Linked DNA regions of Homo sapiens. The protein of the gene in region 3 purifies or fractionates together with the protein of the main gene of each other region. This does not show direct contact. Each region holds a gene or a part of one and is shown on either strand. Other genes may lie near its edges. The genes, in order: PACC1, ECI1, BCAP29, EPB41 and SLC37A3.

Evidence for each region.
Region 1: the proteins of BCAP29 (region 3) and PACC1 purify together in Homo sapiens (co-immunoprecipitation; one large-scale study listed by IntAct). This does not show direct contact.
Region 2: the proteins of BCAP29 (region 3) and ECI1 fractionate together in Homo sapiens (co-fractionation; one large-scale study listed by BioGRID). This does not show direct contact.
Region 4: the proteins of BCAP29 (region 3) and EPB41 fractionate together in Homo sapiens (co-fractionation; one large-scale study listed by BioGRID). This does not show direct contact.
Region 5: the proteins of BCAP29 (region 3) and SLC37A3 fractionate together in Homo sapiens (co-fractionation; one large-scale study listed by BioGRID). This does not show direct contact.

The regions. Positions count from the first base shown.
Region 1 is NC_000001.11:212,375,928-212,382,127, reverse strand, and holds part of PACC1 (proton-activated chloride channel), read left to right. Parts: intron 1-2,090; coding exon 2,091-2,233; intron 2,234-4,421; coding exon 4,422-4,566; intron 4,567-5,243; exon of another isoform or gene 5,244-5,334; intron 5,335-6,200. UniProt on the Homo sapiens protein: Chloride channel gated by pH that facilitates the entry of chloride ions into cells upon exposure to extracellular acidic pH. Involved in acidosis-induced cell death by mediating chloride influx and subsequent cell swelling.
Region 2 is NC_000016.10:2,240,333-2,246,532, forward strand, and holds part of ECI1 (enoyl-CoA delta isomerase 1, mitochondrial isoform 1 precursor), read right to left. Parts: intron 4,221-6,200; coding exon 4,074-4,220; intron 3,108-4,073; coding exon 2,986-3,107; intron 2,893-2,985; coding exon 2,714-2,892; intron 1,487-2,713; exon of another isoform or gene 1,303-1,486; intron 759-1,302; exon of another isoform or gene 212-758; intron 1-211. UniProt on the Homo sapiens protein: Key enzyme of fatty acid beta-oxidation. Able to isomerize both 3-cis (3Z) and 3-trans (3E) double bonds into the 2-trans (2E) form in a range of enoyl-CoA species, with a preference for (3Z)-enoyl-CoAs over (3E)-enoyl-CoAs.
Region 3 is NC_000007.14:107,599,936-107,606,135, reverse strand, and holds part of BCAP29 (B-cell receptor-associated protein 29), read right to left. Parts: intron 5,953-6,200; exon of another isoform or gene 5,834-5,952; intron 5,740-5,833; coding exon 5,631-5,739; exon of another isoform or gene 5,607-5,630; intron 2,774-5,606; exon of another isoform or gene 2,629-2,773; intron 1-2,628. Other genes in the region: DUS4L-BCAP29 protein, read right to left, coding at 5,631-5,739. UniProt on the Homo sapiens protein: May play a role in anterograde transport of membrane proteins from the endoplasmic reticulum to the Golgi. May be involved in CASP8-mediated apoptosis.
Region 4 is NC_000001.11:29,031,850-29,038,049, reverse strand, and holds part of EPB41 (protein 4.1), read right to left. Parts: intron 4,958-6,200; coding exon 4,805-4,957; intron 2,225-4,804; coding exon 2,127-2,224; intron 1-2,126. UniProt on the Homo sapiens protein: Protein 4.1 is a major structural element of the erythrocyte membrane skeleton. It plays a key role in regulating membrane physical properties of mechanical stability and deformability by stabilizing spectrin-actin interaction. Recruits DLG1 to membranes.
Region 5 is NC_000007.14:140,331,503-140,337,342, reverse strand, and holds the end of SLC37A3 (sugar phosphate exchanger 3), read left to right. Parts: coding exon 1-59; intron 60-1,838; coding exon 1,839-1,931; coding exon of another isoform or gene 1,932-2,080; 3' UTR 2,081-3,591; downstream 3,592-5,840. UniProt on the Homo sapiens protein: Unlike the other SLC37 members, lacks glucose-6-phosphate antiporter activity.

The DNA.
Region 1 (6,200 bases), on a different chromosome or scaffold from region 3:
GGCGGAGCTTGCAGTGAGCCGAGATCACGCCAGTGCACTCCAGCTTGGGCAACAGAGCGAGACACCGTCTCAAAAAAAAAAAACAAGAACACTCCAGTGTCAGCTAACAAATTGTGTATTAGTCAGAGTATAGGCTAAGCTACCAAATAAAAACAAAACCTGCAAATACAATGGCTGAGATGAGGGAGAAGCCTCCTTCTCTCTCTGAGAACAGTCCTGGCATGCAGGCCGTGTGGCGTAGTGGGCAGTACTGCCTCATAGGATAGTCCAGCCATGACTTTTGTCTTGTCACTGTGCTGTCCCCTGGGCATTGTTCTGGTCCATGTGGGCAGTGTGTGTGTGTGTGTGTGTGTGTGTCACTGTGCTGTCCCCTGGGCATTGTTCTGGTCCATGTGGGCTGTGTGTGTGTGTGTGTGTGTGTGTGTGTGTGTGCAGTGTGTGTGTGTGTGTCTGTGCACATGCCCAGGCCTGGGAAGGTGGAGGGCAAGCAGTTCCCTTTTCAGGAAATGGGGTGGAGTTGAATGAGTCCCCTTTTCTTTCGCACATTAGGAACTTTATCACGTGGCTACATTTGAGGGCAGAGATGAGGCTCCAGCAGGGGGAGTGGATTCTGCTGAAATCTGGGTTGGGAAAGCCATTCTAGTACTAAAGGAAGAAATGGATAATAGAAACCAGGGACAGTGCTTTCTGTTGCACACTTAAAACAAAATGGTACAGAAAGGTTGAAAAATAAATAGATGGACAAAGCTGTCTTGAGAAGATGCAACGAAAACCAGAAGTGACAATATTAATAGTGTGGAATTCCACGTGCAAAAGTTTGCAAGAAGGATGTTTAATATTGATAAGAGGTTCAACTCCATACTCTCCACTAAGACGACTGAACAGTTCCAAAACTTTATGTACAAAACAGCATGACATTTATATATTTTAAGCAAAACCCGTTAGAAGTAAAAAATACCATCACTTTAGAGCACGATTTAAACACCCCTCTCAGAAATTCACAGATCAAATAGACAAAAACTAGAAAGGATAAGAATTGAATAGTGCAGTTAATAAATTTAGAGTATGTATGTGTGTGTATACATGTGGGGGCACAAAACTTTGTAACTGACAGTGTACTCACTCTTTTTCAAATCTCTGTAGAGCATTTATTTATAAAAGTTGATGTAAAAGACATTTTTTTCTAAAATTAATCTATAAATTCAGTTTCTATCACAGTTAAAAGTCCCAGTGAATTTTTTTGTGGAACTAAGCAAGCTAGTCTTAAAGCATACTTAGAACACGTTCAAAAATAACCAAGACAAGTTTGGGGATGGGGAAGAGTAGTAGGGAGAGCACCTTCCCAGATCTCAGAACAGTGGAAAAACCACAGGAATCAAAGTGGCACAGTACTGGACAGAGACAGACAAATGTGTGGGCTCTGCTAGGGCCAGAAGCAGACATAGATATTGGTTCTGCATGGAATTTAGTATAGGATAAAGGAGGGAGGGGAAGAGGCTTCAAAACCTGTCTCTATGCATTGTTTGGGAAGTAGGAGTTAGAGCCCTATTTCACACTATATACAGAGCTTAAAGCCAGGTATATAAAGTATCTAAATGTAAAAAAGATTAAAAAGTGCTATAAAGAAATAGAGGAGAATATTGATATAATTTTGGCTTTCCTCAGCAAGCAAAACCCAAAGCCGTAAAGAAAAGGATTTAAGGTTTTACTACGTTAAATTTAAAGTTTCCATAGGACAAATGACATTGGAAACAAAGTTAAAAGAAAAATGACAGACTGGAAGAAAAGATTGGCACACATAACAGATGAAAGTGATCATCCTTGCTAAATTAAGAGCTTCCATAACTCAAAGAACCAATGAGAAAAGTGGACAGAGGATGAGCTGCATTCAGCTCTGGTTGGGCATCATATGGGGAAAACTCCCCAGGAATGAGCATGAGTCCCAGCCCAGTCCTGTTGTTGGCTAGTGGTCCCTTTGGAGACCACTGGGCAAGGAGCTATGGGCTTTCCAGTCAGTACTTCTGCCCTCAGACCCAGAGGCCTCTGTGTACTCTCCCAGGACTGAGACTCTGTCCTTTTTCTCTCTGCAGAAATCTGCCCTGATTGTCCAGGGGCCCCGGGAAGTGAAAAAGCGGGAGCTGGTCTTCCTCCAGTTCCGCCTGAACAAGAGTAGTGAGGACTTCAGCGCCATTGATTACCTCCTCTTCTCTTCTTTCCAGGAGTTCCTGCAAAGGTGGGCTTTTAGAGTTCACAGTGGGCTTACTGTCTACTTTTTATCTTATTCCAGCTGTGTATGTCCCAAGGCTAGAGACGGAGGGGTGAGGGCAGGGAAGGGAAGGGGCATTCTCAGATGACCCACTGGCCCAGGAAGGGACCTCATGAGCTTGGCCGGTCCACTCAACATCTTATCACAAAGTTAAGCAAATCTGGTGTGGAGGAGCATGCTGGCTCTCCATGCACATAGTGCTGGCTGGTTCTAGAGAGATCATTTGGTCTCACCATTGCCTGGGGCTGCTGAGGAGTAGGGGAAGTTGCCTTTGATTTGTAAGTCCCTTTGAGAGCAAGTTCTTGTGTGGTTCCTTGGTTTCCCCCACAGTGTGCACAGGAACCACATCTTGCCCTTAGTGCGGGCTTAATGTATGTTTGCCTGAAATACAGTTGGTCCTTGAACAACTTGGGGTTTGGGGTTACCAAACTTAACCACTCCTGCCTATGCAGCCAAAAATTTGTGTATAACTTTTGACCCCCAAAACTACTAACAGCCTACTGTTGACAGAAGCCTTACCAATAACATAAACAACACATATTGCGTGGTTATATATATCATAGACTGTATTCTTACGATAAAGTAAACTAGAGAAAAAAAATGTTATTAAGAAAATCATGGCCAGGTGTGGTGGCTCACACCTGTAATCCTACCACTTTGGGAGGCCAAGGTGGGCGGATCACGAGGTCAGGAGATCGAGACCATCCTGGCTAACATGGTGAAACCCCATCTCTACTAAAAATACAAAAAATTAGCCAGGCGTGGTAGCGGGCACCTGTAGTCCCAGCTACTCAAGAGGTTGAGGCAGGAGAACCGATTGAACCCAGGAGGCAGAGTTTGCAGTGAGCTGAGATTGCGCCACTGCACTCCAGCCTGGGCAACAGAGCGAGACTCCAAAAAAAAAAAAAAGGAAATCATAAGGAAGAGAAAATATACTTACTATTCATTCAGTGGAAGTGATCATTGTAAAGGCCTTCATCCTCATCGCCTTCATGTTGAGTAGGCTGAGGAGGAGGTTTGGTCTTGCTGTCTCAGGAGTGGCAGAGGCAAAAGAAAATCCGCACGTGAGTGGACCCAGCCAGTTCAAACCTGTGTTGTTCAAGGGTCTACTGCATCTCTGGTATGAGGATATAAGCTCTGCCACCTCTCTTAGTCTTCGATTTACAGTGATGAATGTCCCCTGACCATCAGAAAGTTCTTGTCTGCTCCACACACACTGCTTTGGGGTCACACCGTGGAGCCTAGAGGGCAGGAGAATTTTCTTCATGTGCCTGAGTTGAGAGGGACTCAGTTCCTACCAGGTCCTGCTGAGCCCAGAGGCTCCATTCAGAGCAAGCAGGGAGGCAGCTACAGGGGCAGGGAGGCTGCTCCCCAGCTGGACATGCAGCGAGCTGCCTCCATTCCACACCACCACTGCTTTGTTCTTCCACCCCAGAGCTCGGAGCCTCTGCCTTAGCATTTTCCACCCTTTCTGCCACCTAGAATTCCCTCTCCCTTCCCTGCTTCAAGCTGGCCATCTTGCCTTCCTCCTGGAAGACTTTCCCCGGGATCCCACCCCCACTCCACGCTCCTTTCGTGAGCTTCCTCGGTATGCTGCTGCAGTTTTTACTTGTTTTTATGTTCGCTTTGATTTTGCTGCATCTGCACCGTCTTGGGGCTGATGCTGTAGGTGACCCATCTGGCTGAGACCTCCCCAAGGAACCCTCTTCCCCTCTTTGGGCCTTCCATGGGAGCTGACAGGCTGGTGAGGGCTTCCTCAGGCTCTGCTGAAGTCCAGAGTTCTCTGAGGAGCTGTGAGCGCCATGTTCTGGGGAGCTTCTGCCAACTTCATTGCCGACAGCTTTGGTAGCCATCGATAGGAATGATGGGAGGAGGGAGGAAGATTTCTCCCACTGGGAGCTTCAAGGATCATGTTCCTGCCTTGAGGCCAGTGACTACCCCTCCATTTGGAAACCAAATGGAGAGAAAAGAGGGATGGGCCTTGCTTTTGCTGGTGACTGACAGCCCTGTTGAGGCAATCACAATTTGGAGAGGAGGCAGGGAGTGGGCAGCATCCTGGTTGTGCCAGCAAAGAAACCAGCTTGCAGTGGGGGCTTCGACTCCTGCTGCCAGACCTGCATTGACCTGGATCTTCCTTCTCCTTCCTTCCTCCAAGCCCAAACAGGGTAGGCTTCATGCAGGCCTGTGAGAGTGCCTATTCCAGCTGGAAGTTCTCTGGGGGCTTCCGCACCTGGGTCAAGATGTCACTGGTAAAGACCAAGGAGGAGGATGGGCGGGAAGCAGTGGAGTTCCGGCAGGAGGTAGGTGGCTCTGGGTTTGCTTGAAACTGCTGGTGACTTTTCCACATTCGAGTCTGAGGTGGAGGGAAGCTTTGCAGAGAAGGCTCCTTTGAGCAGGGCCTTAAGGGTGAGTAGGCCTTGGTCAGGATGAGAAGGGACTCCCATGGAGGGCTTCATATGCTATGCCAGGGAGTCTGTGTGTGCTTCTGCAGGCAGCGCACATACCGGCCAGTCCTCACGGAATGCATGTGTGGGGCAGAGATCATTGTGGCTTGCAGAGAGGTCAGTAACTCGCCCAGCTGTGTCTGATGTCTTGCATCTAGCAGCACTTTGAGGGGCTGGCAGTGGCCTAGCAGATTGATTATTTGCAGGGAAGAGAGACTAGACACAGTGGTCCCAAGTGTGCATGTTGATCCTTTTCCTAAGGTCCTCTTCAGCTCTCACAGGTGTCACAGCGAGAGATGCCAGGTGTATCTCCTGGCTGCTAGGCCAGTGGGCTGAAAGCTTTTTGATCAGATTTCCCATTAGTAAAAACTTTTTGATCATATACTCCATATACATATAACTCTGCAGGTGATATAACATACTATTATTGTCTTAGTGTTATATACACTTTAAACATTCAAAAATAGAAATGTTAAAAGGATGAGATAAAAATAAATAGTAAAAAAAGCTAGTCTTTTCTTCTTGTATCCCAGTGGCTCGGGATGCTCATCTGGAGCAGAAGGACACACTCCAGTCAACTAGGCCATCACTGGCCAGAAGTTAGGCCGGAGAAGACTGTCTTGGGTTAGTCTTAAACAGGGCCCTGTCATGAGCCCTAGCTCCTCAGACTAGTCCAGGCTGGTTACTTGGAAGAGGCTCAAAGCCAGTTTTCTTCAAGGAAGCAAGGCTATTTTTCCTGCCTTGGGAAGTGACAACCCCTCCTGGTGACTGGACCTTAAAATCTTCCTGTTTTGTAAGATAACTGTCATCTCCCAGATTTTTACCTCCAAATTTGCTCCAAGAAATTCAAGTCCTTTCTTATCTGGCCCCACAGCAGCTCTGAGGAAGGAGACTGTGTTCACTTACCTTACAATTAAGTTCAACCCCATCTACCCTGGATTTTCTGATAGCTCCCACTGTGATCCGAAACCAAAGGGTGAAAACTCTAGTGAACCTGTACATTAAAGAAATTTTAGCATCTTTTATTACTGTCTAAATTGGAAGTCTTTTGTTGGCATTATGAGCTCTTTTGAACAAAACTAAAAAATGTGTTTTAAAATCACATTTTAGAGTTTAGAGTGCTCTCACATAGGTATGCCCCTATACTGTAGTGACGTAGGCATTTTGTTCAGCTTTGTGGGTGGCAAAGCTGAGGCTCAGCTTCGATGATGGATCTGAGCCTCTGGGTGGAGCTGGTTTCTGCCTTTGTTACCTGTCTGCTCTCCGTTACACCACACAGCGTCTTTAGTAATTGACAACCAGATCTCACCAAGCACACCTACTAAGTATTTACAGGGAATGCTCAGCTGTGTGGATCTATGCAGCTGTGCTTTGTCCCTGTAAACTTGAAGGGTTGAAACAAGCGTTGAAAATTCAGAGAAATACTTGATCTGAAAACCAAGTACTTTGAAATTTGGAATTTTTATTGCTTTTAATTGTGAGTCTTACAT
Region 2 (6,200 bases), on a different chromosome or scaffold from region 3:
TCTTGAGTAGCTGGGATTACAACCGTGTGCCACCACACCCGGCTAATTTTGTATTTTTAGTAGAGATGGGATTTCCTCATGTTGGCCAGGCTGGTCCCGAACTCCTGACCTCAGGTGATCCACCCATCTCGGCCTCCCCAAGTGCTGGGATTCCAGGCATGAGCCAGCACGCCCGGCCCTAATTTTTTTTTGTTTTGTTTTGTTTTTAAAGAGACAGGATATTCTCTGTCGCCCATACTGGAGTGCACTAGTGATCACGACTCACTGCAGCCTTGAATCCCTGGGCTCAGGTGATCCTCTCACCTCAGCCTCCTGAGTAGCTGGGACTACAGGCGTGCACACACATCCTGGCTAATTTTGTATTATTTATTTATTTATTTTTGAGATGGAGTCTGTCTCTGCCACCCAGGCTGGACTACAGTGGCGTGACCTTGGCTCACTGCAACCTCCGCCTCCCAAGTTCAAGCACTTCTCCTGCCTCAGCCTCCTGAGTAGCTGGGATTACAGGAGCATTACCATGCCCGGCTAATTTTTGTATTTTTAGTAGAGAAGGGGTTTCACCATGTTGGTCAGGCTGATCTCGAACTCCTGACCTCAGGTGATCCACCCTCCTTGGCCTCCCAAAGTGCCGGGATTGCAGGTGTGAGCCACCGCGCCCAGCGACTTAACGTGTCATTTTCACTCAACTATATTATGAAGAATATTTCCACGACGCAGGAGGCTGAGGCAGGAGAATGGCACGAACCCAGGAGGTGGAGGTTGCAGTGAGCTGAGATCGCACCACTGCACTCCAGCCTGAGCAAGAGGGAGACTCCATCTCAAAAAAAATAAATAAAATAAAAATAAAAAAATTTCCATGGCACTATATTAAATACTGTCTTACAGCACAGGAAATGGCAGCACAGCCTTCAGTCATTTGTATCAGGGTTGGCAAATCTGGCTTCTCAAGGCCCTGAAGCTATGAATAGTTTTTACTTTTTTTGAGAGGAGTCTCACTCTGTCGTCCTGGCTGGAGCGCAGTAGCATGATCTTGGCTCACTGCAACCTCCGCCTCCCAGGTTCAAGTGATTCTCCGGCCTCAGCCTTCCCAAGTAGCTGGGATTACAGGTACCTGCCCCCACACCCGGCTAATTTTTGTATTTTTAGTAGAGACGGGGTTTTGCCATGTTGGCCAGGCTGGTCTAAAACTCCTGACCTCAGGTGATCCGCCCACCTTGGCCTCTCAAAGTGCTGGGATTACAGGCTTCAGCCACTGTGCCGGGCTGGTTTTTACATTTTTGAATAGTTGAAAATCAAAAGAAGGTTAGTATTTTGTGACATGTGAAAATTATGTGAAACTCAAATTTCAGTGTCCATAAAATTTTTTTTGTTGTTTTTGAGACAGAGTCTCACTCTGTCACCCAGGCTGGGGTACAATGGCATGATCTTGGCTCACTGCAACCTCTGCCTCCCAAGTTCAAGCGATTCTCCTGCCTCAACCTCCCAGTAGCTGGAATTACAGGCACGTGCCATCACGCCCGGCTCATTTTTTTTTTTTTTTTTTGAGACAGAGTCCTGCTCTCTGTTGCTCAGGCTAGAGTACAGTGGTGCGATCTCAGCTCACTGCAAGCTCCGCCTCCCGGGTTCACGCCATCCTCCTGCCTCAGCCTCTCGAGTAGCTGGGACTACAGGCGCCCGCCGCCACACCTGGCTAATTTTTGTATTTTTAGTAGAGACAGGGTTTCACCGTGTTAGCCAGGATGGTCTTGATCTCCTGACCTTGTGATCCGCCCGCCTCGGCCTCTTAAAATGTTGGGATTACAGGTGTGAGCCACCGCGCCTGGCCCATTTCTGTATTTTTAGTAGAGATGGGGTTTCACCATGTTGGCCAGGCTGGTCTTGAACTCCTGATCTCAAGTGATCTGCCTGCCTCAGCCTCCCAAAGTGCTGAGATTACAGGCGTGAGCCACCGCACCTGGCCCACTGTCCATAAAGCTTTGCCGGAACACAGCTATACCTGTCAGTTTACGTCTCCTCTGTGGCTGCTTTCTGCTACAAAGGTCTTACCTACAGAGCCCACAAGCCACCTGGCCCTTTAGAGACAGAATTTGCTGGGCCCTGGTCTATACCATCGCTGATATGACCAGCTCTTTTTCTATGAAGTGGACAATTGTCTTTGTAGTAGGTTGAAAAGTGTGCCCCAAAAGATAGGTCCAAGCCCTAACCACTGCTCTGGAACTTGGAAGTGTGACCTTATTTGGAAAGAGTCTCTGCAGATGTAATTAAGTTGGGATCATCTTGGATTTAAGGTAGGTCCTAAATCACATGGCAGGTGTCCTGAGAAGGGAGAGAGAGACCTGAGACCCACAGAAACACAGGGGAGAAAGCTGCGTAAGGATGGAGGCAGAGATTAGAGCGAGGCGCCCACAAGCCCAGGGAGGCCTGGAGCCAGCAGAAGTGGGCGGGGCAGGAAGGAGCCTCCCTGGAACGCAGGGAGGAAGTGCAGTCCTGCCCACACTTTGATTTTGCACCTCTGGTCTCCAGCACCGTGAGATGAGCTTCTGCGGTCTGGGCCACCCGGTCTGTGCTGCGTTGTTACAGCAGCCTCCTGACACCCACATGGCTGTGATTATCAACAGTCTCCCGAAGTCACGATGTCCACAGAAAACCTTTGGGTGGAGAACCTTCTGGTCTCCCCAGCATCATCGGGCGCCCGCCATGCCCCGTGCCTCACCTGGAATGGCCATCCACTGGGCTATCGCTGACAGCGCAGTGCTCTGCACCTGCTCCTCCGGGACCACCTGGTCCACTATGCCCACCTGCAGGGCCTCCGCCGGCGGGAAGAGCAGCCCCAGCTGCAGGGCACGCTCCGCCGCCCGGTGCCCGATGGTGTTCTCCAGGGTGTCTTTCAACCTGGAAATGCAGACACCCACTCACCACATGGCCCCAGGCGGGTCTGTTCCCTCCACAACAAGCATGGAGCGTGGCTGCAGCCCAGGGCCTTACCAGAAAGGGGCGATGATGCCCAGCTGGGTCTCATTGAGTCCTATGCAGTACCTGGGGTTGTCCGCCAGGATGCGGTAGTCACAGGTCAGGGCCACCAGGCAGCCTCCAGCGGGGCAGGCTCCCTGCAGGGAGAGGCCGGACAGGGCTCTTAGGTGCTGCTGGTCCCAACCACATTCCAGAGGGCCAGGTCCAAGGAAGGAGGGCCTGTGCCCTTGGCGCACCCCGACCCCCGCAGGGTTCAACACCCACAATGGTCTGGGCTGGGCTGGGTGTGCACTGGGAAATGGATGAGGAAGGAACTGGCCCCTTAGCGCTCGGCAAGGAGGGTCTGAGGCTCGTCCTCAGCCGAGGGTCATTAGTTCTTCGGCAACAGATAAATCACTTTTAAAAACCATTCAGTTAGGGGAGCAAGTCGCTTGTCCTCTCAGTGCTTTTACTCAATGCTAAAATGCCACACAAGCATTTAGTCATAACTGTCATGCCCCAAGGGGGCCCCGATACCACCCCAGCAGCTAGCGCAACCAGGATGTCCTGGGAACCCCACACTCACCCTGTGGTCACTGCAGGTACCCACTGCCCCGCGCAGGACCCATCCTGTCTGCATGGCCGTGCACCCTTGAGGCTTCCTCTCACACCAGCCCTCCCCTCCACCAGGCTCCGGCCCACACCCGGCTTGTCACAGCCACCCCGCAGGACACCCTGGTTCCTGAGGTTAAGCCCCCGTGTTGTTCTCGGCTTCCCTGGCCTTCCCCCAGAAGGGATGGAGTGATGTTTCCAAAATGTGGGTCCGATCACCCACTCACCCACACAGCCTCCACCCAGGCTGGCATCAACCCCAGGCCCTGGTCCCTACCCACTGGCTCTTTTCTGGGTCTTGTCTGATTGACCCAGGCCAGGGCCCTCACCCGAGGCCCACCTTTCTCAACACGCCCCGTGGTCTGCGATGGCGCTCACCTGTGCACATCTCAGGGCCTCTCCAACCGTCCCCTTCCCCTGTGAGAGATTCCAAGGGCAGGACAGTGTCTGTCCCACCCCCTGGCGCTGGCCCAGAACAGCCAGCGAGGCCACCTGGGAGTGGGGACACTCACGTTGATGGCGGAGACCAGCACCAGGTTGGACTGGTACAACCGCAGCCACAGCTCCTGAACGGCCTTCCAGTACCCAGCGTAGTGGGCGGGGCTCCTCCCACACATCTCCGTCAGGTCCAGGCCGGCCGAGAAGACACCCGGGCGGTCCTGCAGGGGGAGCCGGGGCCACATGCCCATCAGAGTCCACCTCCCAGCTGGCATCACAGCAGGAGGGCTGGGGAGCCCAGGTGCACGACGCACAGCAGGGCCAGGTCACGCTCAGGGTGTGGGTGCTGCCCCACAGAGCCAGGACTAGGCGCTCCAGGGACTCGGCCAAGGCTTCTCCTGGACCTGGCTTCCCTGTACTTCCCAGAACATTCTTCCCTTTCCCGCTTCAAACTGGATAGGAGAGGACAGGCAGCGCCAGGCACCTCTCAGGGACATAAGTGCGCCGGCCCTCTGGCTCTGCACGCCTGGCTCGGGCAGAAGAACCCAGAGGTGTGGTGAAGACTCCTGAGAATCCAGAGGAGCTGCACGTTCTGAATCATTTACCCGCAAAGGGCCAAGCAAGCCAGGGACCCCCGTGTGGACCAGGAAGTGCTAGGGTGGGAGAATGATCTGGAATGTGTGGGTTTCTCAGCAGCTACCAAGGAAGGGCGAGGGGTGAGCACAGGTGGAAGGGACCCTCCCACGGCTGGAGTAGCGGGCGCCAGCACAGGAGCCTCAGACTCCCAGTCAGGGCTGCCGGCCAGGGAGGCGGGCTCGGGGAGGAGTGGAGAACCCACCCTGGGGACCCTGCATGGTCACAGCCCCCTGAGCAAATGACAAGGGTACCTTCCCCTCTGCACAACACGGCACGTTTTCCTCCCGAGGGCCAGACCCCCCAAGGCTGTGGGTGAACTTGTTCCTGCAGCTGAACCCAGCTCACCCTGACTCACACAAGCAGAGCTGGGTGGATGTTTACCCCGCCCTGTCTGCAGGAAGGAGGGCGACAGCCACCTAATGTGTGCGAGGAGGAGGCGGCTGGGACAGATGGGATGGCCTCCACATCCTCAGGCGATGTGAAAAAGCCAGGAACGGTGCGGGTGGGCAACGCAGCTCCGCTGTTCCCAAACAGGTGTGAGCTGGTGCCGCACAGAATGGGTAGGCCGGTCCTTTGTTTCTACAAAACGCGTTCTACTTCCGTTACTCAAAACCCAGGCCTGGCGTGGTGGCTCATGCCTGTAATCCCAGAGCTTTGGGAGGCCAAGATTGGAGAACTGCTTGAGGCCAGGAGTTCAAGACCAGCCTGGGCAACATAGCAAGACCCCGCCTGTACAAAAAAGTAAAAATTAAGCAAAAAAATTAACCAGGTGCAATGGCTCGCACCTGTAATCCTAGCACACTGGGGAGCCGAGGTGGGAGGAGTGCTTGAGCCCAGGAGTTCAAGACCAACGTGGGCAATAAAGGCACTGTCTCTCCCAAAAATTTTAAAAATTTTCAAGATTCAAGAATCGCTTGAACCCAGGAGGCGGAGGTTGTAGTAAGCCAAGATCACGTCACTGTACTCCAGCCTGGGCAAGAGAGGGAGATTCTGTCTCAATAAATATATAAGGCTGGACGTGGCCAGCACTTTGGGAGGCCGAGGTGGGCAGATCACTTGAGGTCAGGAGTTCTAGGCCAGGCCCTGTAAAGCCACGCCAGCCTCCGAGGACCCCTCACTCCCCTCACCTCAGCCAATGCCCGCTTCTCCTCAAGGGTCCCATCCTCCTGGGCCTGACACTGCTTACTGCCCCTCGGCGATGTTGGTAATGACACCGTTCCCACAGATGACACGCCTAGCGTTCGCCAGCACTCAGGCAACATTTAGAGTCCCCTGCACAAGAACTCAGACCAAAGAGGTTCACCCTTGAGAACTCGCCCTGAAGACTGGCCCACAGAGGATCAGAGAGCATGGGTATTGTTCGCAGGACTGGCTCAGGGCACCCAAGTGATCCTAGTGGGGAGCACTCCAGGAACCCACCACCAGGTGTGCTTAGGGTCCAAGGTGACCCCATAGATGCATGGCTCTCCCTCACTCGCTGCCCACAGCTCTCCCCAGTGTCCGCCTGGACGACGGCCCGGGCAGGGAAGGCTGTCTCCCAGGAAGGCGGTCTCCCAGGAGGGCTG
Region 3 (6,200 bases):
ACAAAGTAAAGTTGGAATACAGCCAATTAATTAGATAATTCAAGCCAAAAAACTACCGCCCTAGATTACCTGGGTATTTGGAAGAGGTTTTTTATTTTTATTTTTAAATTCTTTTTACAATAAAAAGCTATCTTTTTCATTAAGCAAAAGAAATTCATTGTAGAAAATAATTTAAACTCTAGGAAAAAGTCATTTGTTGTACATGCTAAGGAAAACCACTATTAATAGTTTAGTGTTTTTTCCTAATTGAAAGTGTTTTAAAACTAGAGTTGTACAGTTTAATTTTTGTAACTCACTTGGCCATAAACATGAACCTGCCATAAGCTGATATCATTAGAAAAGTATTTACCATGAAGGATTGTAGTAAACATGCATATCTAGGTATGGAATAAGACAGTAGAAAAGAACACCAAGGCATTCAAAGTAATTATCTCCTTCGATCTTTTAGGGGCTACATCAATGGACCCCTCAACCATACAGCACAATCATTCACTGCACCTAGTGTGACACATCGACTTCAAACAGACCACTCTGCTTTTTGCTTTGCTCTTCTCACTCAGAACAGTAGTATCATTTCACTCATTTTTCTGCCATTCTATGTCCATCAACACATTTAGAGAATTGTGCTTGATTACATCTTTAACACCTGGAACATTCCTTGATTCAGTATGCATTTAGCACTCTCCACTCATGTTTTTGGTAGACTAGCCCATGTTTCACACTGGGGAGGAAATGAATCCCTTTATGGACATATGTTTGGTTTACCATCTGGACTACAAGCTCTTCTGAGAACAAACTGTTTTCTCTTGCTTTAATGTCCCTCTGTGGAGATTATAAAAGCTTCTCCTCAGGGTAGATATCGTTATGTTTGCTAGTACTGTGAATAATATATAAGGTATCTTTGAATTTCTGTCTTAATATCTTCCCTATAGCTATTCCTCCTGGTTACTGAAAGACACATAGTTTATGAGTATAGGCCTTGATAACAGATAAGAAGCTCACAAGAAAGGGAAACATCACAACTAAATGGGAATGTAACAGGGAACCAAACAGGATGCAATATCATCATTATATATTAGTCCAAGAAAAGTACTCTGATAGCAAGCAAACCCTTTTTTCTGTTTTGACAATAACATCAATATGTGAAGATAACACAGAGATGAACTAATAAATACTAATAAATCCTTTATTTACCTAACTAAAAGGATTGGTCATGAGTTTTATTTACTTTAAATAATTAAAATACTATTAATTATATATTGCCTACTGGCACAACCATCAAATAAACTATATTATTCTTTCTTAATGCAGTTTTTTTTTTCAGTTGATACAAGAAGGGACAAAGGTGTCAAAGAAACAGAAACTTCCAGACATGAAAACAAATAATATGTTTTTTTCTTATTTAAATCACAAAAGTGCATTAAAAGGCAACAAAGCAAAAAAAAAAAAACAACAACAACAACAACAACAAAATGACTAAAAACAGCAAACTGTTTTTAAGCATTAATAATTTTAAAATAAGCTGGGGGCTTTGATATAACTGTAAGTAAAAGATAACTAAGTTCACGTCCACAAAAATTTACAACTGTAAAACATGCTTAGGGTAAACTTAGAATTTATTTTTAGATGAATATATGGTTCATTTGTAAGAAACTGGAAATCATATGGTTTTAAACTTGTATACAAAGCTTATGTCTTATTCTTAACACTGAAGAGGCAGGAATTTAGGGTTTTGGGTATACAGATCAGCAATTCCCCTGTAATTTTCTATCTTGTCTTGATCTCCAATTTCTCTGGAAAAACACTTCAGCTATTTTTCACTATCTGGTCCCTATGTTAACTGGCAATAAAAAGTAAAAAAAACTTAACATCTTCAAGGGTATCAAAGTTGGTCTGCAAAAGGTAATTTTAGTTTTGTTCAACGTAAGTCAAGGTGATATGAAAGCATTTATCCAGGAAGAGAGTTGAATTATCATTATTTTAAGTAGGGGACTAAGGGTTCTGTTTCCTGGTCCAAATCTAGTATCTCTATTGCGTGCTGCTAATACTTAGGTACCCATAATAGGTCTTTACACTCAGTTTCTGATTGTTAGTATATGCTTTAAGAAATTTATTTAAAGTTTGCTTTATCCTCAAGAGGCACACTTTTTAAGGAAAGTGTTAATTATGCTCCACATTAAATGACTTTACAACGACTGAATTACTTGAAAAGTTCTTTTAAAAATTGCTGAGGCCCAGGCACAGCAGTTCATGCCTGTAATCCCAGCGTTTTTGGAGGCTGAGGAGGAAGGGCTTGAAGCCAGAAGTTCAAGACCAGACTAAGTAGCAAAGCGAGACCCTGTCTTTACAAAAAATCAAAAAAATTAGGCGGGCATGGTGGTGCACACATGTAGTCCCAGCTACTCAGGAGGCTGAGGCGGGAGGATCTCCTGAGTCCAGGAGTTCGAGGTTGCAGTAAGCCAAGACTGCACCACTGCACTCCCACCTGGGTGACAGTGAGACTCTGTCTCAAAAAAAAAAAAAAAAAAAAATTGCTGATGAAACAAAGAAGGAACAAAGGAAAGCAGGAACAAACAGAAGAAAGGCATGGTCAAGAAATTTCCCCCAATTACTGTTTTCTCTTTTCCTTTATGTAGAAGACATATACTGCTAATTCAACCTTTACTACAAGATTGGCAAGCCCTAAGAATTCCTTTTAAAATATGGGATGTTTTTTATATCTATATGTATTCCTGCTCCTAAAAGAATGAAGAACAGACATTTCCACATGCAGCTCAATCACTTTTTAAACGATATTTACTTTTATCATTGCTTGGATGCATACAATGACTGAATGCTACATATTTCTAGTTATAAGAATAAAGGAGACCGGGCGCAGTAGCTCACACCTGTAATCCCAGCACTTTGGGAGGCCGACGCGGGCAGATCACAAGGTCAGGAGATTGAGACCATCCTGGCTAACATGGGGAAACCCCATCTCTACTAAAAATACAAAAAAATTAGCCAGGCGTGGCGGCAGGCGCCTGTAGTCCCAGCTACTTGGGAGGCTGAGGCTGGAGAATGGCGTGAACCCGGGAGGCAGAGCTTGCAGTGAGCCAGATCCCACCACTGCACTCCAGCCTGGGCGACAGAGTGAGACTTCATCTCAAAAAAAAAAAAAAAAAAAAAAAAGAATAAAAGAAGGTATTCATTTATGAAAATAAGTAGTTTTCCTGGAAGAGACCTTTAAAATCAATCTCTTTGGACATCAGAAGGTTTTTCCACTAAATGCAATGTCTGTGCTAGGGTGATATTACTGCACGGAAGCACCGGTAATAGTTTACAAACTTTGGTCAAAATAGGAGTTGGAGGTTAAAAACTGAAGGTGTTTGCCACTACTGATAGAGTGTTCTCAGTAGCTGCCTTCAGAATGCCACTTTTTAAATTTGGGGCTAACTAGCTTAAATAAACATTTGTATTTACGTTTTGTTTCCAATAATACACTTGGGAGAAAATGTTTCACTTAGATTTAAGTAACACAAAGGATAAGAAAATTCATATGGAAAACACCCTATTTTCCTCTAAAAAAAAAAATTGCTTTTTTTTAACTCAATTTTCAAATGTAAGATCTCTTTCTAAATCTTTCTTAAGCCTTGTCACCTTAACACCCTCAATATTTAGAAATCAATGAACATTTTTGAGTGGTACTGTGCACAAAGCATTGTACCACTGAATTCATCCAAATCATGCACTATTAATTGATATATTTTCTTAGTTCTTACCTTACTGAATTTAACTGGTTTAGGTCAACAGAACATGACCAAGGAAACACCTTCTTTAGAAACGGAACTCTGATCTTCTCAAGGTCATTACAAATGTTATTTTTTAAAAAAACTTAGGGTAAATAAAACATGTTCATAAAATATTATATGTCTTGCTGGAACCAAACAGGACACACTCGAACAGGTAAAATCTGCCTTTACCTGAACACTAATTCACTTTGAAAGTAGCTCTGCAGTCTATACTTCAAACACAGAAGCTGGTATCAGTTGTTATCAGATTGTAAACACAATGCTTACATTGTCAAAGAGTTCATTTTTTCTAAAATCTGATTTTGTCTTTTAAAGAAATGCTCATGTAATACTAAGTTAAGTTTTATGCCAGATTTAAAGAGTTAAAACTCAAAATATCTCAGAGCTGGAATTTTTGAAAGGTGAAAGGAGAAACTCAATTGTGCAGGGTTAAGAGAAGTGTAGCACACATACACTCTTGTCTATCTTTTATTTTTGTGCCACCCTGCTTACAACATAAGAAAAGAGATTCTTGGTGGATACAGAAAAAAGAAAGCAGGATTTTGAAAGAATATTTTTGTGTTTTGGAAATAGATGGTTTCATTCTTCAAAAGAATTGGTAGCAATATTTTATGCAGGGTTAAAAAAGAACACTAGTTTCTCTTCTGAAATGTCTGTTGTAAACGGTAGGTAACTATTAAATTCATTTTCATATAAACAATAACATTTCTTGATCATGTTCGAAATCTTTTGGAATTACAGAAAAGGCAACAGTACCAACTAGAAGATTCTTGAATTTTGGGCTATACTATGCCAACTACATAATATACCACTTTGTCTATAAGGGTAATTTATTTTTTAACTTATTGCTTCTGAACTGTCTTCTTTTTTTCACTTGAAATAATAAGGAGGAACGTGACTAAAGAATTTTGTATCACATAAATATTCTCCAGTGGATTTCTGTTCTATTCACAGAATTAGCTTTTATTTTTATGTTTTTCATCTCAAATTCAAATACACCCTGATTGAAGTAAACCCTATCCAAACAACGTACCTTAACACCAACTGAAAGTGAGGTTTCTCAGTGTCTGGCCAACATAAAAAACTATCTGTTGTATGCAGAAATGTTGCAAATCATCAAGCCACAAACTTACACTGAGTTTTCTTGGATGACACTGAATTTGGGTTATCTACTTTTCTGTGCTGTGCAGATGCAACAAAAATAATTTGTTCTTTGACTAAGAAAAAAACACTAGCAAAACTTTTTTTTTTAATGTAGAAGAAATTGCTGCCTTCAGGAAAATGGAGTTGGGATGCTCCACTTCAAGCCTACACTGCAATGTTATGTGGGAAGGAGGCACTCAAATTCTTAGCTGACATCCCAGATATTGTTGCCTACTCTGTGCCTACCCACCTCTTTCAAGGAACGCTTTCCTTATGTCTAACAGGTAGAATATATTAGTGCTTGAAATAAACAATATATTTTCTTGTAAGAAAACTGTTCCCCTACAATTGCTTCTCTGAGAGGAGGAATATACGATGATGGAAAAATGTGATTCTTTTTATAAAAACACATTTATAAACAACTTTTTAGGAACACAGCTCTTTTGCTAAGGCAAGAACATCTGTATTTACAACACAGATCTGAAACACCTACATGTTTTTCTGTATAACAGAGCATGTTTCTCTTGGCTGACATAATGTTTTATCTTCATATTTGAACAAGAATTTATAAATAGGTCATTCTCGGTATCTTAGAAGAACATTTAGGCATTAGTTTTGTTTTAGGAAAAACAGTGAAGTGTACAGCATAAAATATCATGCTAGTCTTTTTACTTTTTCACATGTACACAAAGTTACCATCTGAAGTCTTCCTTAATTCAGTTTTCAGTTTCTCCTGGTCTTCTACTAGTTTTTTATTTTCTGCTTCCAAAACACATTCTTCATCTTTACCATGGCTTTTCAAAATCTATTGCAAAAGGAGATACAGGAAGAAATAAGCTTAGATTGCAATAGCCAGACATTCTTACAGAAAATAAGCTGAGTAACCTATCTAAACTTACCTGTTTATAATTTATTCTTTGTCCTTTTCAGAATTTTATAGTTTTCTACAATGTACTTTTGCTAACAGAAACTTAATATTTGGGAAACACACAAAAAAGATTTCCTATTATGGCAAAATCTGTAAAATGAACATAAGAATTTCTAGTTGCTGTGATTAAAATAATATTCTCAAAAGTATTTAGGTAAATAACGTCAGTCTTTCTTCCTCAATTAATGAGAAATGTAAATCTAAGGGAAAAAAACAGTTCTGAGGATGATATTAATTAGAAAACCATTATGTTCTGATTGTAGAGCTATCTACTCAGCCTATTTTTATACAGACAAATTTGTAAGAGAAGAATATGTCAGAGTGGAGATGGGTAAGTG
Region 4 (6,200 bases), on a different chromosome or scaffold from region 3:
AAGTTTATTTATGAATGAAATGACGTGAGGCCTGGGATTTGCTTCAAAATAATCTCGGAAGTAGGGGGAAGGAGTGGATAGGGATATAGAAGAAACAAGATTGGCTTTGGGGTGATAATTATTGAAGCTGGGTGATAAGTACAAGGGGATTTTATTGTACTGTTGCTACATATGAAATTTTCCATAATAAAGAAACGTTCTTAAAAAGGCAAACTGGGCCGAGTGCAGTGGCTCACGCCTGTAATCACAGCACTTTGAGAGGCCAAGGCGAGTGGATCACTTGTCAGGAGTTCGAGACCAGCCTGGTCAATATGGTGAAACCCGGTCTCTACTAAAAATTTAAAAATTAGCTGGGCATGGTGGTATGCATCTATAGTCCCAGCTACTTGGGAGGTTGAGGCATTGCGCCACTGCACTACAGCCTGGGCAACAGAGTGAGACTCTGTCTCAAAAAAAAAAAAAAGGCAAACTGATAAATAGCCAACTTTCCTTTCAATACAAGTAATTACTTGTCTAAGGTCTGTCTTCTCTACTAGACTGGGTGTTCCACCAGGAGAGAGACTAGAACTATCTTGTAGTATATTCCCAATGCCTAACATGGTGCATACAAGAAGGGTAAGCACATAGAAAATGCTTGGTAAACGAACTCAAGGGGTTAATAATATGGCCTCTTGGCACAGTGGCTCACGCCTGTAATCCCAGCACTCTGGGAGGCCGAGGCGAGCAGATCACTTGAGGTCAGGAGTTCGAGACCAGCCTGGTCAACGTAGTGAAACTCCATCTCTACTAAAAATACAAAAAATAGCCAGGCGTGATGTTGGGCATCTGTAATCCCAGCTACTTGGGAGGCTGAGGCAGGAGAATCACTGGAACCCAGGAGCAGTGAGCCAGGATCACAGACTGCACTCCAGCCTGGCAACAGAGCAAGACTCCATCACAAACAAACAAACAGCAGAGGAAATACTTTCTTCTGTCTTCTGATTATCGGGTACTATTGGGCTTCAAATATGGTTCTGTGTGCTCCCTTTCTGGGTTTCATTAGAGTGAAGCTAACAATCAGCTTCAAGGTTGGCCAGGCACGGTGGCTCACACCTGTAATCCCAGCACTTTGGGAGGCCGAGGTGGGCAGATCATGAGGTCAGGAGATCGAGATCATCCTGGCTAACACAGTGAAACCTCGTCTCTACTAAAAATACAAAAACAAAAACTAGCTAGGTATGGTGGTGTGCACCTGTAATCCCAGCTGCTCAGGAGACTGGGGCAGGAGAATTGCTTGAACCCAGGAGTAGGAGTTTGCAGTGAGCCGAGATCCGCCACTGCACTCCAGCCTGGGCGACAGAGCGAGACTCTGTCTCGAAAAAAAAAAAAAAAAATCAGCTTCACATCTTTAACCTTATAGTATAAAAGCTCCACAAAAAGTAGTCAAGCATTGCTTAGAGAAATTCCATGTGGAAAAAAAAATTAGCAAAAACAAAAAAATAAAAATTCCGTCCGGGCACAGTGGTTCATGCCTGTAATCCCAGCACATTGGGAGGCCAAGGCAAGTGGATCACCTGAGGTCAGGAGTTTGAGACCACCCTGACCAACATAGTGAAAGCGTGTCTCTATTAAAAATACAAAAAATTAGCTGGGCATGATGGCGGGTGCCTGTAATCCCAGCTACTTAGGAGGCTGAGGCAGGAGAATCACTTGAACCCGGGAGGCGGAGGTTGCAGTGAGCCGAGATCGCGCCACGGCACTCCAGCCTGGGCAACAAGAGCGAAACTCCGTCTCAAAAAAAAAAAAAAAAAAAAAATCACACGTGGAGGTAAGTGAGGGTAACTCCCCTTAATCGGACTGACTTTAGCTACAATTAATGCAATCCCAGAGTCCCTGGTAAATACAGGTTCCCATTCCTTACTCCTCTCTTCCTTCTACCATACACAGACAGGTGCTTTGGAAATGTTGAGGCATACTTTTCAACCCAAAGGGAGAGAAATGGATTCATTTTGTCTTGCTTAAGATGATCTCACCTGAGCTAAATAAAAGAGTGCCAGTCATACAATGAAAGGAATTTTAATAGCAGGCTTAAAATAGAAACGTTATAAATAATTTATCCTTGAAAAATACTTAAGTGAGAATAATACCTGAAAAACGTGTGATGTTCTACACAGACTTTCCATAATTTCTTAGCTGCTCGGTAACTGGGAAGTTTGAATCCGATGGTACTTTCATACTGCTCTTGCTACAAAAACACAAATAAACATGGGACATGAAGTATTACATGTGATACAGTACCAGATTACAGTGATACAGTACCAGAGAAATATGGTGCCACAGAAGAGGCCATTGTTACCAATTTAAGGACATAAAATGTCATTTGGAATTTTTTCCTACTTACTGAAAGAAATTCACTCACTGAGGGTGGCTTTTTCCAAAGCAAGAAAGCCAGGGAATGCATCTCATATAATTTAAGCTTTTTTTTTTTTTTCCAGAAAACACACACACATTCATTATACATTTTTCTGAGACACAATTAAGTCACCTCTTGATTGTCCAGACACTGCTTTTCCTTAGTCACTATCTGCATTTGGGACACTGTTCAATGAACAGGGAATGGGATATTGACCAAGTCCTCCAATCAATCAATATTATTATGCAATAGAAATTAGTAATAGGAGCTAAAGATTTTAGTTCAAGCCAGATTTTTAAATCAATTTTTTAAATTGACAAATAAAAATTGTACATACTTATCATCTACAACATGTTGTTTTGAAATATGTATACCTGCCAGGCACGGTGGCTTACGCCTGTAATCCCAGCACTTTGGGAGGCCGAGGTGGGCAGATCACAAGGTCAGGAGTTCAAGACCAGCCTGACCAACATGGTGAAACCTCATTTCTACTAAAAATACAAAAAAAATTAGCCGGGCATGGTGGCACGCGCCTGTAATTCCAGCTACTCAGGAGGCTGAGGTAGGAGAATCACTTGAACCTGAGAGGTAGAGGTTGCGGTGAGCTGAGATGGCGCCACTGCACTCCAGCCTGGGTGACAAAGCGAGACTTCTTCTTCCAAAAAAAAAAAAAAAAAAAAAAAACAACAAACAAACAAACCCAAGAAACACGTATACATTGTGAAATGGCTAAATTGAGCTGATTAACATATGTATTACCTGACACACTTATTATTTTTTTGTGGTGAGAAAACTTAAAATCTAGTCTCTTAGCAATTTTTCAAGAGAACAATACATTGTTATTAATGATAGTCACCATGTTGTACAATAGATCTCTTGAACTTATTCCTCAGATTCTTGAATCATTAAATATTTCTTTTTTCCTTTGATTGATCATTAATTTATCTAGATTCCTCTTATACTGAAGCAAAACATATTCTCCCAGGGTTACTAGAAACACTGTCCTGCTGACCTCTTGCCTCTTTATTTCTACTTTAAGCATATTTTATAAGATGGAAAGGAAACTGACATTTATTTTGAGTGCCTACTATTGCCAGTAACACTATGATTAGATAATATCATCTATATTTTTAGACATGAAGAAACTGAGGTCAGAGAAGTTATTTGCTCAGACTGACAGCTATGAAATGACAGAACCAGATTTTTACCCTCTTCACCATACCATGCCACTGCTAAATCATCTACTGCTGCCACAATACTTTTTCTCAAAATCCTGTTGTTCCTGATTGCCTTCTAAATAAGAATTCTACATTTTTAGAAGCTAAGGATTTCCCATTTTCATATTAACGTGTGTGAGGGATGAGATTCTAATTTGCTGTTATATTCCTAGTCCCTAGAATAGTGTCCAACACAGGAAAGCTCTCAATAAATATTTGTTGATTGAATAACTCTTGAATTTGAAATTTTAAGGGAAGACACTGACTGCTCTGTGCTAGGCATAGGTAAAATAATTATGGTACAAAATAAATGCTTCTATGGTAATCCCTATCCAAGATTTTTAAGGCTCCACATCCAGAATTTGCAGGCACAAATAATTAGCCATTATTCACCAGCAGATGGTGATATATACACACAAAAGCCACCTTAGGTTAGTATCATTTCCTATATAGAACTTACACAGCTGTCATCTCATTTGATCTTCAAATAACTATGATGGAGAAGGTATTATCCTGCCCAAATGACAAGGAAGCTGAGCCTTAGATTTGTCCAGGTCTTTTGCTTAGTATGTGGCAGAAAAGAAGTCAGAACTTTTTAAAAAACTTTAATTCCTACTTAAACAATTTTATGCTATTCCATAATGGCTCTTCAATACAAAAGTTAAATTTGGCCAGCATTAGTATATCCCCAAACCAACTAATAAATGAATTAACTGGTACAAAGTTGAACATCCAACTCTTATTAAAAATCTAGAACTTGGCCCTAGAACTCACTCTCAGTAACCACGAGAAGCTATGCATACAAATAAATTTTAATTATATGAGATAAAGGATTGGTGATGCCAAACATGAGTAATTTATCCCTATAAATAATTTTAAAATCTCATGCTACTCAATTTAAAAATATTTTTCCATTAAGTTTTTGCTTGGCGTAAACAAGGAACAAATGTATCAGTCCAAGTTTAACTTTTTGCAATGGTATATTTACTTACAAAAAGTGAAATGTCCAGAAGACCAGTAGTAAGGAAAAGAAGTAGCATCACAGGACTGATCAACTTAGAAAACGGAATTATCAGCCCTTCAATAGTTAACTATAGAGAGACTTCTCAGATGACTTAATAAGGAAAATGGAAATGTAGATATTTCAGATACAGACTGTGTCTGGTTTGGGAGGAAGGAAATATAAATTCTGTACCTCTCCAGGCCGAATCTTGATGAAAAAGCTACTACGTTTATAAGAAATCTTCAGCACTTTGGGCCAAGGGAAGCGGTTAATTCTCAGCTTATCTTTGTAAACCAGAAGGCCACTAGAGCAGACACCTAGGATGATATCTACTCCTTCCAAGTCCTGAAAAAGAAAAATGTTAGGATTTCAGTCTGGAGCAAAGTACTCAATACACTGTTGACTATTACTAGATAATCTGAAGATAACAACCAAAAACAGTTACAAAACATACAATGAAAAATAAAGCTCAGCCTAACAGTTATAATTTATGGACCTATTATGTTTAAATCAGCAGTCATGACTTCCTGGAGAGCAGGGCTTAGAGCTATGTATACTACCAAATATACACGCACAATTATTAATTCTTGTTTTTTTATGATAAAGTGTTAACAGCTCCAGAAATGATGTTAAATGTAGGAGTTGACTCTATTCCTATATAAACTCAGCATAAGACAATCTTAGGTTCTTAAAATTGATGTTAAGTATATTAAATTAAAAATATGATCCCTAAGTCAAGAAGTTACATTAAGGCACAATGAAATCATATTTATATGCCTCTTTATTAAAGACAACTTTAAAAAATTAAATATGTAATATTAATCATCTATGTCTATAATTCAAAGAAAATAAATTTCACCTAAGTTAGTCCCTACAGCTAACAGTTTGTTTAGCTAAGTAATCAAAACACAAAGTTAAATGCTTCTTGACTACTCTTTCCCCCAAAATGAGTATAGAGAAATATATTAGTGCCTACACGTGTTATAACAGAGAAGCAGGAATTACATACAGTTCCAATTCAGTGACTATGTAACTGAGAATTTCCCAGAAGATGCCCTCTTAAATTTTTAAAGCTTGTGGGTATAACTACATTTCACTTTGGAGAAACAATTTGCTTTACAATATTTGGGAAGGGAACATGCTGCCTGACTCCATCAATACCTGAATTGACACCAGCTTCCAGCAGGAATTGTGAAGCAAAATCTAACCATTTCAGTTTTAGAAACATACCTAATCTGATGTACTGATCTTCCTACAATATACTTTAGAGATTCATAGAAGTTGTAGTACCCAGCCCAAAATAATCCAGAACAACTTTTTTCTTTTTTTTTTTTTTTTTTAAGACAGAGTCTCAACTGTCACCCAGGCTGGAGTGCAGTGGTGCAATCTAGGCTCACTGCAGCCTCTACCTCCTGGGCTCAAGCAATCCTCCCACCTCAGCCTCCTGAGTAGCTGGGACCACCAAAGGCACGTGCCACCATGCCTGACTAATTTTTTGTATTTTCTATGGAGACGGGATTTCACCATGTTCCCCAGTCTGGTCTTGAATTCCTGAGCTTGAGCGATCGGCCGCCTCAGCCTCCCAAAT
Region 5 (5,840 bases), about 33 Mb from region 3:
TGTCTCTGATCCGGGACAAGCTAGGATGGATGTGGGTTTTCTACTTTTTCATTCTCATGGTAAGTGTGTGCCCCTTTAAAAAAAAAAAAGTCATTTTTCTGTTAATTAAGTTCAAAGCACTTACTTAAGTCACTTCAGCAAAACTGTTGATTGCTTTTAAAGGCTCCTTTGTGAAAAGTAACATTTTATTAGTCTAAAAGACATCTTCTTCTTCTTCTTCTTCTTTTTTTTTTTTTTTTTTTTTGAGGCAGAGTCTCGCTCTGTTGCCCAGGCTGAAGTGTGGTGGCGTGATCTTGGCTCACTGCAGCCTCTGCCTCCCGGGTTCAAGCGATTCTCCCACCTCAGCCTCCCGAGTAGCTGGGATTACAGGCGCCTGCCACCACACCCGGCTAATTTTTGTATTTTTAGTAGAGATGGGGTTTCACCATATTGGCCAGGCTGGTCTTGAACTTCTGACCTCAGGTGATCCACCCGACTCGGCCTCCCAAAGTGCTGGGATTACAGGCAGGAGCCACTGCGCCTGACTTCACATTCTTCTTTGTGAGGAAGAAAAAGGCTCTCAGTTTGCTCTTGACCTGAGTCTAATGAATATTGCCATTTATGATTTCAGAAAAACAAGAAGAGACTTATTTAAAGTATCACCAGCCCCTAATCAGTATACTCTTCTAGGCTACCCTCTATCTGCTGAATATAATATAGGAATTCTGAAGTAAATTACAATGTATACCAAGCAACACTTGAGTTAAAAGAGAAGCATTGCTGTAATCAACACTGTCATGTTTCCCGGTTCTAAAATGTTGATAGTTTCTTGAGGAAATATTTATGATGCCCTAGACATTCTTGGCTGGGATTCTCTACTTTCTTGGAAATAGCCAATACAGAGTAAGGCCTTGTTTATTTTTATTTATTTATTTTTTTGAGACAGGTCTCATTCTGTCACCCAGGCTGGAGTGCAGTGGCACGATCACAGCTCACTACAGCCTTGACCTCCTGGGCTCAGGTGATCTTGGGCTCAGGGGGTCCTCCCACCTCAGCCTCCTGATTACCTGGGACTATAGGTGTGTGCCACCATGCCTGGTAACTTTTTGAATTTTTCCTAGAGGTGGTTTCACCATGTTGCCCAGGCTGGTCTCAAACTCCTGAGGCTTTGTGCTTTTAAAATATTGCTCTCTGTTATGAGCTGTGACATACTCAGGCACGTTATTGTGGGACAGTGCTCAAGACAGGTCTACCTGAGAGAGTCTGGAAGGCACCAGGGACGCATTCAGTATCCTGTCCCCAAATCCAGGGCACTGTAATTGAAGGCAGCTTCCACCACCCGTACTCCAGGCAGCTGTCCTCTTGCTGTGGTCAAGGAGCCCCAGGATAGTCCAGCTCCAGGAATACCTTGGAGCTTTCATCTAATTCCCATCTAGCTTCTAAAGACTGGGCCCATGTAACTTGTGTTCCATTTCTGACATCCATGCTAAGTAGAGGGAAGTATCTTGTGATGAACTTTCTGATGTGATCATACTAGGAACTGTAGTAGAAAGAAAACTTTTATCTATTATAAGGATCACTGTTGTTCATCTGAGCCTCTGGTCTCAGTTCTCTGCTCCGCCTATGGCAAATTATTTGTATGTATTGTTCTTTTTTTGGGAACTGAAATGTGATGTTGAGTGTTTTGTAATATTAGCCATAATTTTCAAAATCATTTTCTAATTCATTGAAGATTAAACATTATCTTTGTATGAAGTCAAAATGAATGTAATTGTCCAAATCCATTATTATGTTCAAAACATGACACTCTAACAGAAGTAAACTGTTGCTGCATATTTAATACTATTTTCTCTTTACAGACAAGTTGTACAATTGTGTTTATCTCGCCATTAATAGTGAGGGAAATATTCTCTCTCGTGCTAAGGAGACAGGCTCACATATTGAGGGAGTGACCGGTGCCCGCGAGACAGAAAGAACAATGTCAGCCACATCAGGACCGCTGGGGCTTCGAGTCTGCCCTAATTTGGGTTTGTCTAGGAGCTCCAGCCTGATCTTGGATTGTCAGGCGTCTCTCAACACTGCCAGCCACCTGAGATGCTGACCAGCAGTGAAGGCTGCACTAGTTTTCTACACTACAGGAATTACTGTTGATGATTTTTGCTGTTGTTTCATGAATGTGCCGAGTGACTTCTGACTCTGCCAGCATCTTTGACCTCTGACTCTGCCCGCGTCTTTGTTTGGCCTATTGAGGTTTAGCGTTTTAACCTTAACTGTTGTTTTGGACTTGAACTTTCTCTAGCCTTGAAAATGGAGTGAACAGGAGGCAAAGCCACGCGTGGTTTGTGTTGGTGGTATGTTCCACAAATGGAAGAGATCATTGCATTTTGCTTTGGTAATGAGTTTACAGAGAGTGGGTCATCTTTGAAGCATCAAATCCTGATCAAATGCTCAAGCTGGACCGAGCTGCAAGCCTGCCTTGGACAAAGAATCCCTCTGTTCACTGTGGTGGGAAAGATCACACTACATGCCTGTTGATTGGCTCAGTCACTCTGTGTCTGATCTAAACGTCATTCAGCCCTAGAAGCATGAATTGCTTCAAATTATTGTCAACTTGTTCTCTTCCATTTTCATTCAAATTAACTTTGACTCCTGGAAGTATTGAGTCTTCCTTTCAAGGACCATAAGGTACATCAGTTATCTTGAACATTCTGACGTGTAAAGGACCATAAGGTACATCATTTATCTTGAACATTCCGACGTGTAACTCACAGCCGAAGCACTCCATCCCAGATTTGTTGTCTGGGAACTTAGGATCCTCTAGGAAGCTAATCTGCTTAGTCTATTTTTAGAGGATTGATCTCTGGCACAAGCAGCTTCCTGGAGTTACCTCAGCAGAAGACTAGAATTAGAGAAAAGGGAAAGACCTTTTCTTCTAGTAAGTGTCAAGTACAGATGCTCTTTGACTTATGATGGGGTTATGTCCCAGTAAACCCATTGGAAGTCAAATGCATTTAATACCCCTGACTGGACACCACAGCTTAGCCTCGTCCACCCTAAATGTACTCAGAACACTTAGAATTGCCCACAGTTGGGCAGAATCATCTAACACAAACTCTATTTTATAATCGAGTGTTGAATATATCATGTAATTTATTGAATATTGTACATTATGTTGAAATTGCAACCATTTCACACCATTGTAAAGTCCAAAAATCAGAAGCTGAGGACTGTCTGTACATGACATTGAATCACATGAATGGATTACTAGGGCCTGAGGGGTGTCCGTTCTTTAGAAAAATGTAGAGTATATATATCTTCAGGGCTGTGAATTCCATACTAGTTATCAATATTTTAAGATCATTCTGTATATACATATTTTAAATTATGCAAGCAAACTAGGAGGAGAATGTGCAATTTTGAGGGATACCTAATTTGCATTCGGTTAGGGGATATTTTTCAACCTCTTGCTTTATACTCTGATATGGGGTGTGTTTATGAACTTGTTAATGTTATTTAATCATGCAGATTTCCAATCAGTGTATTGCTCATTTACTGACAAAAAGGGAAAATACGAAACACAGAAAGGGAAAATAAACTGACTTTTATAATGAATCTCCATTTCGTTACTTAAATCTATATACCATGAGCACTGAGATTTAGAATGTGATCGGTGCCCTCATGTTTCCTGATACTGAGCGCTCCCGGGTGAGCCCACGCTGACCCACAGCATTGCTGGGTCACGTGCTCCCTCACCTGAGGTGCTGGGGTGGCTTCATTTCCATCTGTTCTGTGAAAACTTGCCCTTTCCCACTGTGGAAGACTGTGCTCGGTTTGGATGAATTGCCCGGTTGTAAGTTAAGGGCCGTCTGTTTTCTCATTGAACCTCTTGGCTGGCGTTTGGCTCAGAGTTTCCTTTCCGGCTGCACTGTGGGTGTGGTCTCATCTTTGTGTCCCCACGCCAGCCAATGTTTTCTTACCCAGTTGAACCTTAGATCGGTGACTGTTCCCCTGACCTTTCTATGGCCCCCGAGCTGTACTGAAATGAAACCATTTAAAAAAATTTTTTTGAGACAAAAGTCTCGCTCTGTCACCCACACTGGAGTACAGTGGCACGATCATGGCTCACTGCACCCTTGACCTCCTGAAGTCAAAAGCGATCCTCCCGCCTCAGCTCCCAAGGAGCTGGGACTAGCCTCCCAAGTAGATGGACCGTGCGCCACCATGCCTGGCTAATTATTTTTAGTCTTTTTATTTTCTGTAGAGACGAAGTCTCACTGTTACCCAGGCTGGTCTCAAACTCCTGGGCTGAAGCGATCCTCCCACCTTGGCCTCCCCAAGTACTGGGATAACAGGCATGAGCCACTGGGCCTGCGTAAAATGAAATTACAAATCAATGCTCAGCACTGGACAACATGAAATAAGGATATATTCCCTTATTCTAGTTCTGCCAGTCTGCACAGGATTTAACTTTTTTTTTTTTTTTTTTTTTGAGATGGAGTCTCACTCTTGCCCAGGCTGGAGTGCACTGGTGCAATCTTGGCTCACTGCAACCTCCACCTCCCGGGTTCAAGCGATTCTCCTGCCTCAGCCTCCCAAGTAGCTGGGACTACTACGGGCACACGCCACCACGCCCAGCTAATTTTTGTATTTTTAGTAGAGATGGGGCTTCGCCATGTTGACCAGTCTGGTCTGTAACTCCTCAAGTGATCCACCTGCCTTGGTCTCCCAAATTGCTGGGATTACAGATGTGAGCCACCGTGCCCAGCCAGGATTTAACTTTGATGAACATCTAAGAGTTCACTTTATTTTCTTCTTAATATCTTCTCCCTTGAGAAGGGAAGAGAAAACCATAGTGAAAGCTAATTTGAAAATGCATCCTTTCCTCACAGCCAGATCGTCGATGCTCGCTAGGTTGAAATAAAATGCTGCGGTCTGCCTTTTCTTTTCAGAAGGTGGTTTTTTTTTTTCTTACAGTTTCAAAGGAGGAAATGTCTCTCCCTACTCCTGCTTATTCTGTCCTTTCCTGGTTCCCGAGGAACCAGAGTGCCACAGTCAGCATTCCTGCAGCAGTATTGGAGGAGCTGCTGTTCCTCATGATGTTCCGTGGGATGGAGAATGTGCAACGCTCTCAGTCCTTTGTGCCTCTTCCCTTTTCCCTTTTTTTTTTTCTTTTTTTGAGACAGGGTCTTGCTCTGTTGCCCAGGCTGGAGCGCAGTGGCACAATCATAGCTCACTGCAGCCTCAACCTCCTGGGCTCAAGCAGTTCTCCCACTTAAGCCCCACCCTGAGTAGCGAGGGCTACAGGTGCACACCACCACATTCAGCTAATTTTTTAAAATTTTTTTGTAGAAAAGGGGTTTCGCTGTGTTTCCCACGCTGGTCTTGAACTCCTGGGCTCAAGTGATCTGCCCACCTTGGCCTCCCAAAGTGCTGGGATTACTGGCATGAGCCACTGCACCCAGCCCCCTTCTTCAGAACCTCCAGAAGTCCTCCTGTCTCCCAAATCAATACACGGTAAAGCCTTTTCTTTTCCCTACTGGCTTTTCTGACTAATGTCCTAGTTTTCTTTTTGCAGCTAAACCCTTTGAGCTAATAGACAGTATCTGCTGCCTTCCCATCTATACTACTCATTTCCTCCTCAACTAGGTAGCTACCTGTCTATCTGTTGGCCCAGGACAGTCCTGACTTATACCTGTCATTCACCGTAATTATCAATGGCACTTCCTTTTGCTCTCCAAGTGTCCTGATTTGGACCCCTTATCTCTAGCCTCTGGCCTCTCATCACCCTACAGAAGCCATGCATTGAGGGTCATTGAATTTTGAGACTTTTTCCCCCCTCATCCCATATTTGTGCTTGACAC